Linked DNA regions of Homo sapiens. The protein of the gene in region 2 interacts with the protein of the main gene of each other region in a pairwise test. Each region holds a gene or a part of one and is shown on either strand. Other genes may lie near its edges.

Region 1 (7,352 bases), on a different chromosome or scaffold from region 2:
TTCCTTGGATGCTTCTTCAAAACATAGACAGCTTCCATGTGCAGTGGATTTAAAAATACCAAGGGTCCTTCTCTATGTCCTTCATCTTCTGGGACTCACATGTGATCCTTTGGGACTGATGGAGCCAGATGACTGCTTTGTCTCAACTCTTTCCACTGGGGCAGTTGAAAGTTTTGTCTAGTTTATATTCTTGTAGAGCCTCCCTTTGTAAGCTGTTGGTGGAATAGGCACTATAGCTTCACAAAGGGAAACTCATCTTCATAGGAGGTGGAAAGGACAGAAGTGAATTTAAATGTCAATATCAAGCAGGAAGAAGATCTAAAGCTCTACATTTGGGGTGTATCAGTAAATGTGGGGAAAAAACCATACCAGACTCAAAAAGTATAAAAATAAAAACAGCAAATATGTATTGGATATCCTCTATATATGTGGCACACAGGGACAATGAGCAATAAGATATATGAAATCTGTTATTGCAGGGCTGACATTCTAGTTGAGGAGGCAGAAATGGCCATATAACAGATGAATTACAGTATGATAGCTCATGCTACTTTTGGCTGAGCACTGAATCTGCATTAGGTGCTGGACTGAACTCTTTGCAGGCAGTCCATGTGCAGGCAAGAGGAGCTCCAGGGTGCAACAGCAGGAGCACTCCCCAGGAGCTAGGTCAATCCAGGAAGACTCCATGGGGGGGGGTGGGGCTTGAGTTGGGCCTTGAAGGAAGCATAGGAGTTAGAACACATGAAAGGAAAGAGGATACTCTATGTTACTTTATTTATTTACTTATTTTGAGATGGAGTCTCACTCTGTCGCCCAGGCTGGAGTGCAATGGCGCAATCTCAGCTCACTGCAACCTCCGCCTCCTGGGTTCAAGCGATTCTCCTGCCTCAGCCTCCTGAGTAGCTAGGATTATAGGCACCCGTCTTCATGCTCTGCTAATTTTTTACTGTATGTTACTTTATTTGAGATTATTATAGTGATGCCTGCTTCCAACAGCCTGAAGGGGTGCTGATGTGGCTGCCCCGCTAGAAGCCTCTGTAGCCCAGGTGTTGGAGTGTGAGGGTAATGACCAGGTTCTCAGACTCACAAAAGAAACAGTTTGTGTCACAGTAGCCCTTCCAAAAACAAGATTTGACCTAAGGGATTCTATTGTGTGTTTTAAATAAGAAATCTCAAGTATTTCTTGCAAACCTTTGTGATCTATCCCTTTCACACTTCTGATAAAATTCCAAATGATAGTGTTCAGTATAAGAAATTGGGTTCTTCCTAACCTCACTCTTTCCCCAGTGACAATAAAAGTCACCTCGACTCAAATGATTGTGGCCCTAAAAGCCCATATTTCTGGGGGAAATCTGAAATGTTTACTTCAAGTGACAGTCTGAACTGCTCATGGCCCACTTCACATTCACAGGTCATCCTGCCCTCTGCTGAGTTGAAAAGCCCAAGATAGAAGAGGGCTCAATATTAGGAAACCCAGTTATTTATTTATCTTATTAGCAGATCGAAGAGGAAAATTAAATGGTCATTTTCATAGATCTTGAAAAAGCGTTTGATTTAAAAATCCATTTTTATTTAGAAATAAGTACTTGAATATTCTTACATTTAGTTTTATTATATTTTTATTTAGAAATAAATACTGTAATATTCTTATATTAATAAGAATAAAAGCCACCTCCTTAACATATAAAACATTTCTCTCTCACACCAAAAGTTAACATCATGCTTAATGGGAAACAAGACAGGAATTTACACTCTTGTCATTATTTAATAATGGTCAGAATGTCCAGGCCTGGCAGTTAGATAAGAAAAAAATAGGAGCTATAGACATAGGAGAAGAAGAATATAAATGTTCATTTTTTCAAACGTGGAAAATTCATGAGAATCACCTGAAAAACCATGCCAAATAATAAGATAATTTGTTAACAGATTTCCATACATCATACAATAATCAGTTGAAAGATGTAGGGAAGAAGAGATTCCATTTACAAATGTAAAAAAAGAAAAAGTAAAAGAACTAGAAATAACCATAATAAGAATGTACCAAATCTATATGAAGGAAACCTCAAAATACTCCTAAGAAAAACAAATGAAGACTCAAACAAGTATCTAGAACCCTGTTCTTGGATTAGGAAGACTCAAGATCATAAATAATACTCACTAACATTTACTAAGCATTTACTATGTACTCAGACACTCTTCTAAGTATTTTACTACATAACTTGTCAAAGATGTAAATTATCCCTAAATTAATTTGCAAATTTAACATAAATTCAATATATTATGCATATACTACCTATTCAGAAATAAAATTTAATTTTAAAATCTCAATTTCAATAATCCAAGCTGACATTAAAAAGATCATCTAAGATTCTTGATGCCCTTGAATGAGGAAGAGAGAGTAAAATGATCACTAGCTTGAGTCTTTGACCCTTCTATCAGAAGGTGTTTTCTTTGCTCAAGAGGAAGACACCCCCTCAGTAACTCACTTTCCTCAAAGGATCACTTGTCAACCTCAAGTTGCCCTACGAGCCTCCAGAAAAGGGCCAGAATCTCCACAAAGACTCACTTGACATACTCACAAAGCTCTGCTATGAACACTATTTTCCCAACCTTAAATCTCAGGAGGACTACCAAATGCAGGCCAGTTAACCCAAGAGGGAAAGTGAAGTCTACACCAACATAGATTAGATTAGGCTCTTTAAGCATCTCTCTTTTCCAGGGCTCCTACCTGGTCCCCCAGGGCTCCCTGGAGCGGCATCACCTCATTCATTACTGCAGCTAAGCCCTCAATTGAACAAGCCTCCCAGGGGCAATTTCCTTTCTGGGGGACATTGTCATTCAATGGTATTATGCAGACCAAGTAGGCAAGCAAGGTTCCAAAGCAAAATTGAGTTCCTACCTGACATGGCACCCAGGAGAGCCAGGAGAATGATTGCTTCCTGCATACTTGATGGTCACAACTGTGCGTGCTTCCAGCACATTAGCCACAGCCTGAATCCCGTCTCACACCCAAAGTTTATTCCAGAAGCCACTCAGCTTCCCCTCCTGGTTTTGTTGCCATGCAAGAAATCAAACAGAGGCTTTGGCGGTAGCCAAGGGAGACTCCAAACACCACAGGACTGTTTGTTCTTTGATTACCTGCTTCTGTGACTGCATAGCACCCAAGAGACCAACCAGCCAGTCCTGGTCAGCTCAGAGTTTACCTTAAAAGTCCACACTCACCAAGTGTCTCAACCAAGAGCTCCAAAAGAGAAGTCAAAAGAGAAAACCGAGACACGGAGACCACACTAAGAGCTGGACGTGCGTAGTCCACCCATGATGGTCTCGGTCGCCCTGTAGCCAGGCTTGTGGTCATTTCCAGAAACAGGGGTGGGAAGTGGGAGTTTTTCTGCTGTCCTGAATCAATGAGTAGGATTCAGACTTGGGAATTAACTGGCACTCGTTCTAAAGACAAGATCTGAGAGCTGGGAGCAGACCCCTCCTCGAGGCTGACTTGAGGTGGAAGACTGCCCTCTGACTCCACCCCCCACCACCGCCCCTCCAGCCCTCGAAGAAGGCTGTGAAGGAAGGTTACTGGAGTGGTGAGGCTTCTGCCCACTGGGGAGTGATGCAGGTCTTGCCCTTCACGATGCCTTTCTGTTCCACACAGCCCTGTGCCAGGGCACAAGATGTGGCATGTGAACAAACGCGGGCTGGGGTCTAGTCTCCACTGAGAAGGAGCAACAGCAGAGCAGAGAGAGAACGGCCGAGCAGTGGCCTGTCCCCTTGACATGGTGCAGTAAGAGAAGTAGTGGGCACAGTGGAAGGCAGCTGGGCTTGGACCACCTCTCCCATTCCTCTGCCAGCTAGGGGAGGAGAGGCCAGCAGCCCAAGGCTGGGGGCAGGAATGCAGTGAAGAAGGTGGGGAGTTGAGTCAGAGCCTCCCAGTCTGGACGAGACCCCACAGGCGCTCTGAAAACTACACATGCCCCACAGGTGAACCAGCTTTTAGCACCTGCTACACGGAGGTCACCAACGAGGGATAGAGGGAGACAGTGTTATGGAACCAAACTGGGTCCACTCACCCTGTGCAGTAAAACCGGATATCCACACCGAGGTTTTTGCAGCAATAGAAAGGAAGGCATTTATTTGCAAGGGTGCCAAGCAAGAAGGGCTCAGAGAGTGAGGGGTTTGACCCAGGCTGCGCCACCTGCCAGTGTCCCCTGTGTCCCCTGCGTCCCAAACCTAGGGTGGCAAGGCTGCCCTTCCCTTCCACCACATCCAAACATTTGACAAGCCCTTTCCAGCCTCCAGGGCCTGCTGCCGGGCCCCTTCCCATGCTTGTTGCTACTGCCCTGGCTTAAGGTCCTTGCCTCTGGCCTGGGCTCTGGCCCGCAGCACATCCTACAGAAACTTAGGTTAATTTCCCCAAAGTACAATTTTGGTCATTTACTTTCCTGCTCAAAATAACAAGAACCTTTCCCTTAAGAAAAGTTGACTTTTCTTGTGTAAAGCATGAAGGAAAGGTAGTAAGATTAGGAAAGCTAGTCGATAGGTCTCTGTTCGAAGCACATAGATAGTAACAACAACAACAAAACAAAAGGGAGTGTTGCTGTGTCACCTTTGGCAATTTACCTAACCTTTCAGAATCTCAGTTCCACTCACTTCTGTAAATCAGGGAAAATAATACCTGCTACACAGTATCATCGCAAGCGATACACAAGAGAAAGAAGTGAAAGAAACTGGCCCATACTATGTGTTTTAAAAATACTTTTTTTTTTTTTTTTTTTTTTTTTGGAGACAGGATCTCACTGTCACTCTGTCTCCCAGGCTAGAGTGTAGCAGCGCGATCATAGCTCATTACAGCCTCAATCTCCTGGACTCAAGCAATCCGCCCACCTCAGCCTCTGGAGCAGCTGGGACCACAGGCGTGCACCACCACACCAGGCTAATTAAAAAAATTTTTTTTTTAGAGAGGACGTCTCCCTATGTTGCCCAAACTGGTCTCAAACTTCTGGGCTCAAGCGATTCTCCCACCTCCGCCTCCCGAAGTGTTGATATTACAGGCATGTGCCACACTATTTTTTCCTAATAGGACCCTGGCAAGGGCTGAAACATAGTAGGTACTCAATATATATTGGCCAAATAAAAAGAAAAATAAACAACAGTTGCCAAGCTACCAATTCTCACCTCTCAGTTTTTCCTGTCATGTGAGATACTGTAAATAATCCATTTCATTATGCATAATTCAAGCTGAAGCGATGGCTCAGATTAAGTTATGGAAAACGTCAGAATGATTAAACTTTTGTATTAAAGAAACTCACATCTGTTTAGTTTTCAGCCTGACTGCACAGCATTTTTCATGTTACCCTGTTTTTACCAGGAGATCGTGCCTCCCCTTCCTTTCCCTCCCTGGTTCTAGGGAGCAAAAGGGTCATCTTTTGGAATTCATTGTGGGTGTTTTCTCCTGTAATTACAGCTTCTGTTTCCAGCCCCGAGGTTGTTTCTGCCATTGCCGCGGGCTGCTGCCCATGTGTCAATTCCCATCTCCCTCCGAAAGCACCTAGTCCTAGCACCAGACACCCAACTGGGCCTGAATCGCACCAAGGCTGAATGGGACCTTGCGGTCCTTGGCTCTCCTGTCCCTGACTGCCAGCATGCTGAGCTGTCCTGGATCCACCAAGGTCTCAGCCAGATGGGATGAATGGGTTCCTCAGGCAGGGTCGGAATCTCTAGGGCAGGCACCCCTCCAGCTTCACATGAGACCCAGGAGCCTTCTCCTACATGCTGTCTGGCTCAGCAGTGATTCAGGCCCTTAAAGTATTTCAGGGGACTTCCCTGGGAACTAGCTACTGTAAGTGTCTAATTTGCTAGCAAAGGAGTTGTGTTCCAAACATTTTTTGACTTGGAACTTGGAACTCAATTACCCTTACATAATCTATAACATATAGTCATGCACCGCATAATGACAACATTTCCATCAACCATGGACTTCGTACACAATGGTGGTCCCATAGATGATAATGGAGCTGAAACATTACTATCAACTAGTGACGTTGTAGCTGTTGTAACATCATAGTGCAACATGTTACTCATGTGTCTGGGGAGATACTGGTGGAACAAACCTACTGCACTGATAGTTATGCAAAAGTCTAGCGCATACGGTTATGTACAGTACATAATACTTATAATGATAATAAATGTATGCTGTCATTTTAGAGTATACTCCTACTTATTTAAAAAAATAAAGCTGGACAGGCACCGTGGCTCACGCCTGTAATCCCAGCACTTTGGGAGGCTGAGGCGGGTGGATCACAAGATCAGGAGTTCAAGACCCACCTGGCCAACATGGTGAAACCCCGTCTCTACTAAAAATATAAGTTAGCTGGGCATGGTGGTGAGCACCTGTAGTCCCAGCTACTTGGGAGGCTGAGGCAGGAGAATCTCTTGAACTAGGGAGGCAGAGGTTGTAGTGAGCCGAGATCGCGCCATTGCACTCTAGCCTTGGTGACAGAGTGAGACTCCATCTCAAAAAAAAAAAAAAAAAAAAAAAAAAAAGCTAATTGTAGAACAGCCTCTGGCAGGCCCTTAGGAGGTATCCAGAGGAAGGCATTGTTATCATAGAAGATGGCAGCTCCATGTGTGTTATTGCCCCTGAAGACCTTCCAGTGGGACAAGATGTGGAGGTGGAAGACATGACATTGATGATCCTGACCCTGTGCAGGTCTAGACTAATGTGTGTGTTTGTGTCTTCATTTTTAACAAAAAAGGTTTGCAAGTTAAAAAAAAATAGAAAAATAGTATAGATTAAGGCTATAAAGAAAGAAAATATTTTTGTACAGCTGTGCAATGTATTTTAAGCTGTTATTACAACAGAGTCAAAAGTTTTAAAAATATAAAAGTTTGTAAAAATGTTACAGTAAGATAAGGTTAATTTATTATTGAAGAAAGAAAAATTGAAAAATAAATGGAGTGGACTAAGTTTACAAACTCTACAGTAGTGTACAGTAATGTCCTAGGCCTTACATTCACTCACCACTCACTCACTCACCTACAGCAACTTCCAGTCCTGCAAGCTCCATTCATGTTAAGTGTCCTATAGAGGTGTACCATTTTAAAAAATCATTTATGCAGTTTTTTGTTGTTGTTTTTTTTTTTTGACGGAGTCTCGCACTGTCACCTGGACTGGAGTGCAATGGCACGATCTCAGCTCACTGCAACCTCCGCCTCCTGGGTTCAAGCTATTCTCCTGCCTCAGCCTCCCAAGTAGCTGGGATTACAGGCACCCGCCACCATGTCCAGCTAGTTTTTTGTATTTTTAGTAGAGAGGGGATTTCACTATGTTGGCCAGGCTGGTCTCAAACTCCTGACCT
Region 2 (3,174 bases):
CTTAACAGTCTTACAAGCAAAGTACTATTGTTGGCCCCATTTCCAGAGATGAAAATGAAGGCTTAGAAAAGTATCTAGTCTAAGACCACAGAGTTAGGAAATAGTGGAGCCAGGATTTAAAGCCAGGCAGTCTGACTTGGAATGTCTGTTCTTAACCACTCTGTTACACGCTACCAGGACTCAAAGAACCCAAATGCCAGTCTCTCCTTTTCAGGTCATCTCTGTAGTGTTAAATAAGGGGGAAAAAGGTCAAGCCTCTCCCCTCCCCTGATGGTGATCCCATTAATTCTGGGGGAAAAAAAAACAAAAAGCCAAAATAATCCTATACTATTTGATGTTACTTTTCTAATTCAAGAAAACAAACTTGCTATTAACATATAGTGCAGAGAAAGTCATATAATATAAAGTACTGAGAAACAAAAAATTTGCTTTCAGCATTACTAGGCTCATTTTGGACTAAATGAATATAGTATATCCCAGCTCAGAAATCAACAATTTCTGAAAAGTTAAAAACTTCAACACAAACAATATATATTTTATCTAATATTTTATTTACTGATCTCTCTGAAACATGCCAAAATTCATATAGCTAAGGGAACTTACCATGCTAAAATGCTGTTCAACATGACAAATTTATACAAAACATATTTCAATGTAGTGCCTTCATTTCATTCTTGAGGAATCAACATTACATTTAGGTGGTGAAATACAAATATAATTATCAAATATCGTACTTCTAGTTTACTGGAAAACATAACAGTTGTGACAGTCACACCTAACACCTTGGTTAATTAAAGACAGAAAATGGGCAGGGGTGTCACAGAAGTATGCAAGGATTTGACAGTTCAAACTAATCCATAGCCCTTCTGAGAAACTACAGATGGAAAATATGTAGTAAATATTTCTGTAATATGGTGGTTTCAGTACATTATAGCACAGTGATCATCATTCCATTCATACACTCAAATAACTGCTGCTTCTGATCACTGAAAACTAGATTCAAAGTCATTGCTCAACAAGCTGATACTACAAATCCCTTATATTAACAGGTAGTTTAAATGTGGAAATAAGGCAAAGCATACTTGTTAGTCACAATTACTTTCAGATATAATTGAGACTACACTGCTATACATAATTAGGTACACAGTATGTATAACAATGCATACTATGGTGTGGAGTTAATTCCAATTACCATATTTTATATTTATTGGTCACAACAGCATACATTTTATGCTCCAAAATACATGGATCTGACAAAATGGTTACATTTAATGTTCTTTTAAAGAAAGATGAACTAAATTTAAGAAGAATTGGTTTTTCCTAATATCTCATTTTCAAATTACTGATACAAATTTGCCAGAGAAACAATTACATGTTTTACCTAACATCAAATAATCTCCAGTTTCTAAGACAGATGCATTTCTTGTTCAATTTCCAAAAGTAAATAAAGGCTTTCTAACTGAAAACATTTGCATCCCTAGCTCTCTAAAGTAATTAAAAAGAAAATTACAAAAAATGACCTCTAAGCTTCTGAACAGCCCACTTAGTTACATAAAGTACTTTCTGTCCCAACACTTTCTCTAATTCAAAAGATATTTACTTCCTAAGTACACGACAAAGTCTTCATTTCAAACCATTCACTCAGTTTCCATGGTAACATTGCGGGCTTCCTTGGCTACCATAAGTCGCATTAGTTGACTGTGGAATTTCTCAATCTTCTTTACATCTTGAGCTTGGTCTGTTTTATACACCAAACACTGTCAGAAATTTTAGAAGTACATATTAACTATATAAAACTAGATACTGACAATGTAGAAAACATACAATTGGGTAAAATTTTGAGAGTTTTTCCTACCACTGTTTTGCTCTATTCTCCTTGGAGGTCGTACTAGGGAAATTGCACTCAAGTTTCCAAGCCTCCAGCAATTCCATGTCTTAAAGTACAGTAATTTAAATGCCACTGCTGTGGACAAAAAACTGAATGAAGTCTATTAGAAGCTTCTGAAAAATGTTAAATGTTAAATCCTGCTATGGTCTGATGAGAAGAACTCAAGACTTAGAATTAGATATTTTCTTCCTTCGAATTAGGTATTAGATTATCTCCCTACATATTTTCTCCCAGCCATAAGTAACTGAGTTATGCTGGAAAAAAAAACACAGAAATCTTAAGATCTCTTTTTCTACTGGTGAAATTGGGGGTTTGATAATAATTTTTAGAAAAAAATCTAGAATTCTCTGTGTATAGCTGGTCAACACATAAACCAGGTAAATCTTGATTTTCTTGGCCAGGCGTGGTGGCTTACGCCTGTAATCCCAGCACTCTGGGAGGCCGAGGCAGGCGGACCACCAGGTCAGCAGTTCGAAACCAGCCTGGCCAATATGGTGAAACCCCGTCTCTACTAAAAATACAAAAATTAGCTGGGCGTGGTGGCGTGTGCCTGTAATCCCAGCTACTTAGGAGGCTGAGGCAGGAGAATCGCTTGAACCCAGGAGTGAGGGCTGCAGTGAGCCAAGATCATGCCACTGCACTCCAGCCTGGGCGACAGAGTGAGATTCCGTCTCAAAAAAAAAAAAAAAAAAAATCTTGATTTGCTGAAGGTATGTATTTTTGAGACAGTGTCTCACTCTGTGGCCCAGGTTGGGGGTGTAGTGGTGCAATCTCAGCTCACTGCAACCTGCGTCCTGGGCTCAAGCGATCCTCAGCTTCCTGAGTAGCTGGGACTACAGGCACACACAACCACACCTAGCTAATTTTTCTATTTTTAGTAGAGACGGGGTTTCTCCATGTTGCCCAGGCTTGAAGATATTACTTTTAAATCAAACCAAATTCTTCCTTGTTAGCAGTTAAATTCTTCACTAGATACTTAAGATCTGCTTATGGTTGGTCATAAAGCCATCTGTTGTAGAATCTTCAAAAACAGCAACTTTAAGCTGGCAGCCCTTTCCTCATTTTGTAGTACAGATCCACTTTTCTTCAGCCCATCTTAAAGGTTCACATGAGTTTTAAACAACAGGAACTAATGATCCTATAATAAAAGTCAACAACTTAAATAACTTGAAGTTCAACCTCATCATGCCCAACTGATTTTTTTAAGTGAGCCTTTTAAACAACTCACTTAAAAAAATTTTTATCCACGCATTGTACAAATTTGTGCGGCAATCTTGTAAAAAGGC

Evidence for each region.
Region 1: the proteins of SRP9 (region 2) and CDHR3 interact in binary tests that used the Homo sapiens proteins (3 or more experiments, as listed by UniProt).

The regions. Positions count from the first base shown.
Region 1 is NC_000007.14:105,958,912-105,966,263, reverse strand, and holds the start of CDHR3 (cadherin-related family member 3 isoform 1 precursor), read right to left. Parts: upstream 3,001-7,352; 5' UTR 2,946-3,000; coding exon 2,900-2,945; intron 1-2,899. UniProt on the Homo sapiens protein: Cadherins are calcium-dependent cell adhesion proteins.
Region 2 is NC_000001.11:225,787,823-225,790,996, reverse strand, and holds the end of SRP9 (signal recognition particle 9 kDa protein), read right to left. Parts: intron 1,758-3,174; coding exon 1,638-1,757; 3' UTR 533-1,637; downstream 1-532. UniProt on the Homo sapiens protein: Component of the signal recognition particle (SRP) complex, a ribonucleoprotein complex that mediates the cotranslational targeting of secretory and membrane proteins to the endoplasmic reticulum (ER).